2 linked regions of the Homo sapiens genome follow. The protein of the gene in region 1 purifies or fractionates together with the protein of each later gene. This does not show direct contact. Each region holds a gene or a part of one and is shown in the gene's direction. Other genes may lie near its edges.

Region 1 (3,500 bases):
TCCTTCCCTTCCCCAACAAAACAAAAGAAAATACAAAGAAAAAAAGCTCTGCCGAAACATGAATTTGCAGATACCGCAGTGATTCCAGGCACTGGTGGGGCGGTGCTGCCCCCTGGTGAAAACCAGCCAGATTGTAGCAGAAAGCCCGAAGCACCTTCTCTGGCCTCTCATGATCCGGTTTTGAGTCCTGGAGTTAATCCCCAGCTGTAGGACACGCTAGAGCTGCCCTCAGAAGCTGGGAGAACAGCCACCTTGGGGAGGGTGGTTATGGGTGAAAATAACTGATTTTGAACTAGGGCACAGGACTGGCAAACCGATTCCCCTCCATTATTTCAGTTTATTTATTATTGTTTTTTAATCTTTTTTTTTTTTTTTTTTAGACAGTCTCACTCTGTCGCCCAGGCTGGAGTGCAGCGGTGTGATCTTGGCTCACTGCAACCTCCGCCTCCTAGGTTCAAGTGATTCTCCCGCCTCAGCCTTTCCAGTAGCTGGGATTACACAGCGCCTGCCACCACACCCAGCTAATTTCTGTATTTTTAGTAGAGATGGGGTTTCGCCTTGTTGGCCAGGCTGGTCTTGAACTCCTGACCTCAGGTGATCTGCCTGCCTAGGCTTCCCAAAGTGCTGGGATTACAGGTGTGAGCCACCGTGCCCGGCCCCCCTCCCTTATTTCAGATGGAAAAGGGCCTTTTAGGAAGAGGCCGCTGCTCCGCTCTGAACTATGTCTATGGCCTTGATGGGGGCTCTTACAAGGGGTTAAACAGGAAGCCATTCACAGAGGGGCTTAGCTGTACACCCACCAGGGAGAAGGGGCCAGGACCCTGACAGGAAGGTTATGGAGGGAACAAACAGAGACCCCTTCTCACCTGGGAGTTCCACAAGTTTCTTAGCAAATGGACCATCTTGTTTCCCCCAGTGTGTTCTGAACTCTCGCTCTCTCAATCTGACTCAATGAAAATGATTTGTGTGTGTTTTCAGAGTTCCGAAGAGTTGCATCTCTCAGTTGGACACATCAAGCAAATCATTGGGATCCTGAGGGACTTCATCCGCTCCCCAGAGCACCGGGTGATGGCGACCACAATATCAAAGCTCAAGGTGGACCTGGACTTTGACAGCTCGTCCATCAGTCAGATTCACCTGGTGCTGTTCGGATTTCAGGATGCCGTAAGTGCTCCATCTGGCCCTAGGGAACACACCAGATCTTGGAATTCAGTTACCACCTCCTCCCATAGCCCCCATCTCTTCTTAACTGTATACACCTGAATCCCAAGCTTCAGCAGCTCCTCCTAAACAATGAAGTCCAGGAAATGGCATCTGGGTGAACTGGCTGATTGCATGCGGCCCCCAAGAGGATGAGTGTAGGTTGCCGTGATTCTCCGTGCAATGCACTGGAAATCTGGATTTTTGTGATTTTAGTTTATTTTATTATTTTTTTTTTTTTTAGGTAAATAAAATTTTGAGGAACCACTTAATTAGGCCCCACTGGATGTTCGCGATGGACAACATCATCCGCCGAGCGGTGCAGGCCGCGGTCACCATTCTCATCCCAGGTGAGCGCCCCCTTTGTGGTCAAGGTCAGCTTTAGGCCGTGAAAAGATAAGAAATATCCTCTTCATTCAACAGTTGTTGCTTTTCTCTTTTCCATCTTGGTTATCTACTTCCTTGGAATTAAATGCATGTTGTCATAGACTTCTTCCGGGGCTGATTCTGTAGTTCTGAGAGCATCTCGTGGTGCTGTATTTACGTGTCCCTGAAGCATGATGAAGGTGACTACACATAAACTATAACTCACAATCTCAAAAGGGAGCATGGGGCCGGACGCGGTGGCTCATGCCTGTAATCCCAGCACTTTGGGAGGACGAGGTGGGCAGATCAGCTGAGGTCAGGAGTTCAAGACCAGGCTGGCCAACATAGTGAAACCCCGTCTCTACTAAAAATACAAAAAATTAGCCAGGCTTGGTGGCACGTGCCTGTAATCCCAGCTACTCGGGAGGCTGAGGCAGGAAAATCGCTTGAACCCGGGTGGTGGAGGTTGCAGTGAGCCGAGATCACGCCACTGCACTCCAGCCTGGGCAACAGAGTGAGATTCCGTCTCAATAAAAATAAACAAATACATAAATAATATTAAATTAAAAGGGAGCATGGGGCCAGAGGGGAAGGATCCTCCAGTCCTCTGGTATCCCCTTCATCGTGCACTCAGGAATGTTTCTTGGGTAACTGACAATACAGTGGCTCAGATTCCTCTCTCTGAATCATCATGTAGTAGTTACAGAAGTTTTTGGTTTTTGTCAATTTCCTTTTTGAAATGTTACCAAAGTTGATTCTCCTTCTCTGGTGACTTCTTCCTGCTAAGGGAGGCTTTACAGCCCATTCTGTCGCCATCATGGTTTCCCCCTTTCCTTCAGCTCCTTGCTGTTTGGCTCCAGCCCACCCTCCCGAATGCACTGTGTAGCCCAGGCTCAGCTGCAGGAGAGGCTTGGGAAACCCCAGTGCTTAATTCCTCTCCCACTCCAAGCAGACACCTTCTGTAGTAAAACGGCACAGGCTTGGGTGGCAGCCTGGCTCTACTTATTTCTTTCTTTTCTTTTTTTTTTTTTCTGAGACAGAGTCTTGCTCTGTCACCCAGGCTGGAGTGCAATGATGCGATCTCGCCTCACTGCAACCTCCATCTCCCAGGTTCAAGCAATTCTCCTGCCTCAGCCTCCGGAGTAGCTGGGGCTACAGGTGCGCGCCACCACACCCAGCTAATTTTTTTTAGTAGAGACGGGGTTTCACCATGTTGGCCAGGATGGTCTTGATCTCTTGACCTTGTGATCTGCCCGCCTCAGCCTCCCAAAGTGATGGGATTACAGGCGTGAGCCACTGCGCCTGGACCTGGCTAATTTTTGTATATATTTTTTAGTAGAGATGGGGTTTCACCATGTTGGCCGGGCTGGTTTCAAACTCCTGACCTCAAGTGATCTGCCTGCCTCAGCCTCCCAAAGTGCTTGGATTACAGGTGTAAGCCATTGCTCCTGGCCTGGTTGTACCTTTTGAACGCTGGCCTTGGTTCACTTCATATCCTTAAGCCTCAATTTCTTCCTGTGGAAACTGGCGTGATCAACTTTACGCTGCAGAGAACCAAATGGAACAGTCTCTTCTCCATTTGTAAAGTCAGCAGTCCCCTAATGGAGCATGGCACGGGCTGGGCCAGCTTCTGAACAGCCCGGTTTGCTGACCTGGGTGTCTGCGACCCCAGGCCCCACTGGCCTGGTTTGCTCACCATTGTCATGTCTTGTGTGATTTGCAGAGCTCCGAGCCCACTTTGAGCCTACCTGTGAGACTGAAGGGGTAGATAAGGACATGGATGAAGCGGAAGAGGGCTATCCCCCAGCCACCGGACCTGGCCAGGAGGCCCAGCCCCACCAGCAGCACCTGAGCCTCCAGCTGGGTGAGCTCAGACAGGAGACCAACAGGTGAGGAGCTTCTGGGCCCTCCTCTGGGAGCAGGCGCTGGGACAG
Region 2 (4,221 bases), on another chromosome or scaffold:
TGTGGCTGCCTGGGCTGCTGAGATTTCGCTCGGTTTTATCACCGCAGAGGAATGCCCGACATACCGGGGGGCGAGCAAGGTCCAGAATGACAAGCCCTGGCATTCCTCAGCCGCCCCCTCCCTGGGGTGGGGCCTGGACATTCCTGGCTGCAGCTAGAGGTCCCAGCACGACAGGGATTCTGACCCCCCTCCACCACGGCTATTGTTCAGAATTCTGTGGATTCCAGAGGCATCTGCCCAGCAGACTGTCTTGCTGTGAACACCCAGCTCTGCAACCGGTGTTTGCGTGTTTGCCCTGGGAGGCTGAACGCTCACCCAGAACAAAGGCCTCCCCACATGCCTGCTGTGAGCTTCCAAGGACTCGTTTGCACACACGCCAAGGAACCCCGGGGTGGGGTGATACTGAGGAGCTTCCTCCCTGACCCACACACACCCTTTGAACAGGTCTTTGGCCGCTCACCAGTCTGGTCAATCTCGGGGCAGTATTTATATTCCTTCCCATTTCCAGGCCTAGGAGCCTTGGCATCCTGCTCTCGCCTCTAACTGAAATTACCTCTCAACCCTTTTTAGCTAAGATGCCTCTCGCATTCCCTAGGAATAACAAGCTTTAAAGCCCCTTCACACTGAAGCCTGCCTTTGAATTCCCCAGGTAGATTTGGGGGTGGGGGTCTTATGGCTCCCAGCGAACCCCCGGTTCTGTTGATTAAATTGAGCTCAGGCAGATTGCTGGCTTCCCAAAGCCTGTGTTATTACTGCTTCTCAAAGCTACGGGCACCGGATCGCCGTCTTTGGCAAGATTCTTTTGGGATACAATGGGAATTACTGGGTGGCCTCGGTTCGGTTCTTCCCTCGTCCCAGTTCGCGGCTCACCAGCCCCACTGATGCAGCCCCCAGGCTGGAAGGAGGCTGCAGGAGCTTCCCCTCAGGTCATCCTCTCATCCCTCCCCCGTGCCCCAGGAGCTGGTTGTGGGGGCGGTTCCATCCCCTCGGCCCATCCGGGACAGGAGCCTAGGTTCCCTTCGGGGGGTACCCCAAACTCCATCCTTGGCCTCAGGCCAGCCCTGGTGCACTGCCCGCTCCCAGGCTTGACGAGAGGCTGCGGGCCAGTGGGTGAAGGGGCGCGCCCTGACTGCCAGGCCCCGCCCAGGCGCATCCGGGAGGACGGGCTGGGATGACGCGGGCGCCGGGAGGGGGGAGGTCGCGAGGCCGGGGTCTCCATGGCGCAGGAGGACTGGGGCCTTCGAGGACCACGCGGGCCTGGGAATAGCCCGCCAGGCTGGGCCGGACGACGCACGTGCTCCGAGCTGGGCCGAGGGGGCGGGGCTGAGGGACGGGGCCGGGCCACGGGGCGGGGAGGAGCCGCGGACGGTGGGCGGGGCCGGCGGGCCGGGGCCTAAAAGGCGGCGCGGGCGGGGTTCCTGACGCAGCTGCGGGCGGCGGGCGGCGCGCACACTGCTCGCTGGGCCGCGGCTCCCGGGTGTCCCAGGCCCGGCCGGTGCGCAGAGCATGGCGGGTGCGGGCCCGAAGCGGCGCGCGCTAGCGGCGCCGGCGGCCGAGGAGAAGGAAGAGGCGCGGGAGAAGATGCTGGCCGCCAAGAGCGCGGACGGCTCGGCGCCGGCAGGCGAGGGCGAGGGCGTGACCCTGCAGCGGAACATCACGCTGCTCAACGGCGTGGCCATCATCGTGGGGACCATTATCGGCTCGGGCATCTTCGTGACGCCCACGGGCGTGCTCAAGGAGGCAGGCTCGCCGGGGCTGGCGCTGGTGGTGTGGGCCGCGTGCGGCGTCTTCTCCATCGTGGGCGCGCTCTGCTACGCGGAGCTCGGCACCACCATCTCCAAATCGGGCGGCGACTACGCCTACATGCTGGAGGTCTACGGCTCGCTGCCCGCCTTCCTCAAGCTCTGGATCGAGCTGCTCATCATCCGGCCTTCATCGCAGTACATCGTGGCCCTGGTCTTCGCCACCTACCTGCTCAAGCCGCTCTTCCCCACCTGCCCGGTGCCCGAGGAGGCAGCCAAGCTCGTGGCCTGCCTCTGCGTGCGTGAGTACGGGGCGCGGGCCGGGGGTTGGGAGGTCGTAGTCTCTGGGTCCCTGCATCCTTGCATCACTACGCCCCTGGCTCCCACATCTCTACATCTTTACGTTCCTGGACCATCCCGGCAGTTCTAGGCTAAGGTCATTGGTCCCAGAAACCACGTGCGTTTCTTTCATTCATTCTTTTACACTTCTCCCCACAGGCTGGGAATATCTTCAGTGACGGGACAGCAGGGTCCCTGCCCTGCCCTTCGGTGGGCATTCCATTCCCCCACTTAAGCGGTTTAGGCAAGTGCCACCCTCCCGTTGGCCCCGCTGAGCAATACTCCCAGCCTCTTGCGTGGCACCCACGTGGAGTAACTGAGCAATCGGTTTACTGTTAGAGCTCCGATTGCTGACTGGTTGGTGAGAAGGAAATTGCAGTTAAAAAAAAAATCATTCATTTCTGCTCTCCACACCAGCTCGTCAGGAATCAGTGACACGGGCTGACTCATAAGAAAACAGTAGTAATAACATCGTGTGCGGGTAGTGACTGGTGCTGATTTAGGCTAAGGGATCCCCCCTGAGGGTTCCCAGTAGTGAGAGAGCGGAGCTTGGCTGCAGATTCAGTCTGTGTTGCAGTGAATGGACGTGCGGGTCCCAGGTTTCTCTGGGAAACAGCCATGGGGCTCCTGTTTTGGTGGGCATGGTGCTGGTGTGTTCTTCACCAGGCCAGAGATAACTGCTTTTCAAAATAGTTTTCTTTTTCTTTTTCTTTCTTTTTTTTTTTTTTTTTTGACACTGAGTCCCGCTCAGTCGCCCAGGCTGGAGTACAGTGGCACGATCTCGGCTCACCGCAAGCCCGCCTCCCAGGTTCATGCCATTCTCCTGGCTCAGCCTCCCGAGTAGCTGGGACTACAGGTGCCCGCCACTACGCCCGGGTAATTTTTTTTGTATTTTTAGTAGAGACGGCGTTTCACCGTGTTAGCCAGGATGGTCTCGATCTCCTGACCTTGTGATCCGCCCGCCTCGGCCTCCCAAAGTGCTGGGATTACAGGCGTGAGCCACCGTGCCCGGCCTCAAAATAGTTTTCTTGTGGGATTTCAGGGGGAAAATCACTTGTAGCAGATGCCACATGATTTGGTTGGGTGGCGTGGGAAGGTGGGTCTTGGCAATTCTCAGATTCATCCCATGGCATGGATCGGCCTGCATCTCAATAGTGTGTGTACACATTCAAGGTGGGAAGGGCTAATTTATAGTTGGGGTCTTGAGCCATGAAATCAGGGGAGTGGCTTCTGACTGGCAGGACCTGTTGGCGCTGTTTTCTGCCACACCGTACTTTGGGGGGGAGGGGGAGGGGGAGGCATTTCTTCATAAATGTGAGAATGCCCCGAGGGCAAGACTCAGCAGGGCTCTGTGTGGTTTCTCTGAGGCTCTGAGTCGAGCAGCCGCACCACCATGCAGGTCAAAGCCGGGAAAAATCGTAGCAGGACAGCAGTGGGGAGAGCCTGTGCCTTCCAGCTGGGCGTTGGAGATGTGAATGTAGGGGATGACTCTGATTTCTTTTTTTGTCATTAGAATTTCACTGGTTCAGTCTCCCTCCCGCCTAGGTACATGTCGGCCCGGTATGTAACGACATGGATAGTAGCTTACGCAGCCTGCACTCTTATCTTTAAAAAATGAACCCCTGGTTGGCTGGGTGTGATGGCCCACGCCTATAATCCCAGCACTTTGGGAGGCCGAGACGGGCGGATCTACCGAGGTCAGGAGTTCGAGACCAGCCTGACCAACATGGTGAAACCCCATCTCTACTAAAAATACAAAAATTAGCCGGGCAGAGTGGCTCACGCCTGTAATCCCAGCTGCTTATGAGTCTGAGGCATGCTCCGGGATGTGGAGGTTGCAGTGAGTTGAGATCCCGCCACTGCACTCCAGTCTGGGTGACAGAGCAAGCCTGTCTCAAAAAAAAAAAAGCAGCCCCTGGGTGCTGAGTCTCTGACTTCCTGCTGGTGCCAGGAGTGAGTCGTGGGAAATGCTTCATTGGCCACCAGGAAGGAGACGTAGGATGGGGCGCTGCCTAGTTTTCTCTTTCTAATAAAAATCACATCAGTCATACATGAATTCATCATCATTTAAAAATTCAAACCAGCCAGGCACTGTGGCTCACACCTGTAATCCCAGCACTTGGGAGGCCGAGGCAGGCGG

The links. Proteins that work in one complex are often made in the same cells at the same time.
Region 2: the proteins of MAP3K15 (region 1) and SLC7A5 purify together in Homo sapiens (affinity purification with mass spectrometry, with the first as the bait; one large-scale study listed by BioGRID). This does not show direct contact.

What each region holds. Positions count from the first base shown.
Region 1 is NC_000023.11:19,369,009-19,372,508, reverse strand, and holds part of MAP3K15 (mitogen-activated protein kinase kinase kinase 15), read left to right. Parts: intron 1-978; coding exon 979-1,164; intron 1,165-1,444; coding exon 1,445-1,550; intron 1,551-3,289; coding exon 3,290-3,455; intron 3,456-3,500. UniProt on the Homo sapiens protein: Serine/threonine kinase which acts as a component of the MAP kinase signal transduction pathway. Once activated, acts as an upstream activator of the p38 MAPK signal transduction cascade through the phosphorylation and activation of several MAP kinase kinases.
Region 2 is NC_000016.10:87,866,708-87,870,928, reverse strand, and holds the start of SLC7A5 (large neutral amino acids transporter small subunit 1), read left to right. Parts: upstream 1-1,421; 5' UTR 1,422-1,506; coding exon 1,507-2,044; intron 2,045-4,221. UniProt on the Homo sapiens protein: The heterodimer with SLC3A2 functions as a sodium-independent, high-affinity transporter that mediates uptake of large neutral amino acids such as phenylalanine, tyrosine, leucine, histidine, methionine, tryptophan, valine, isoleucine and alanine.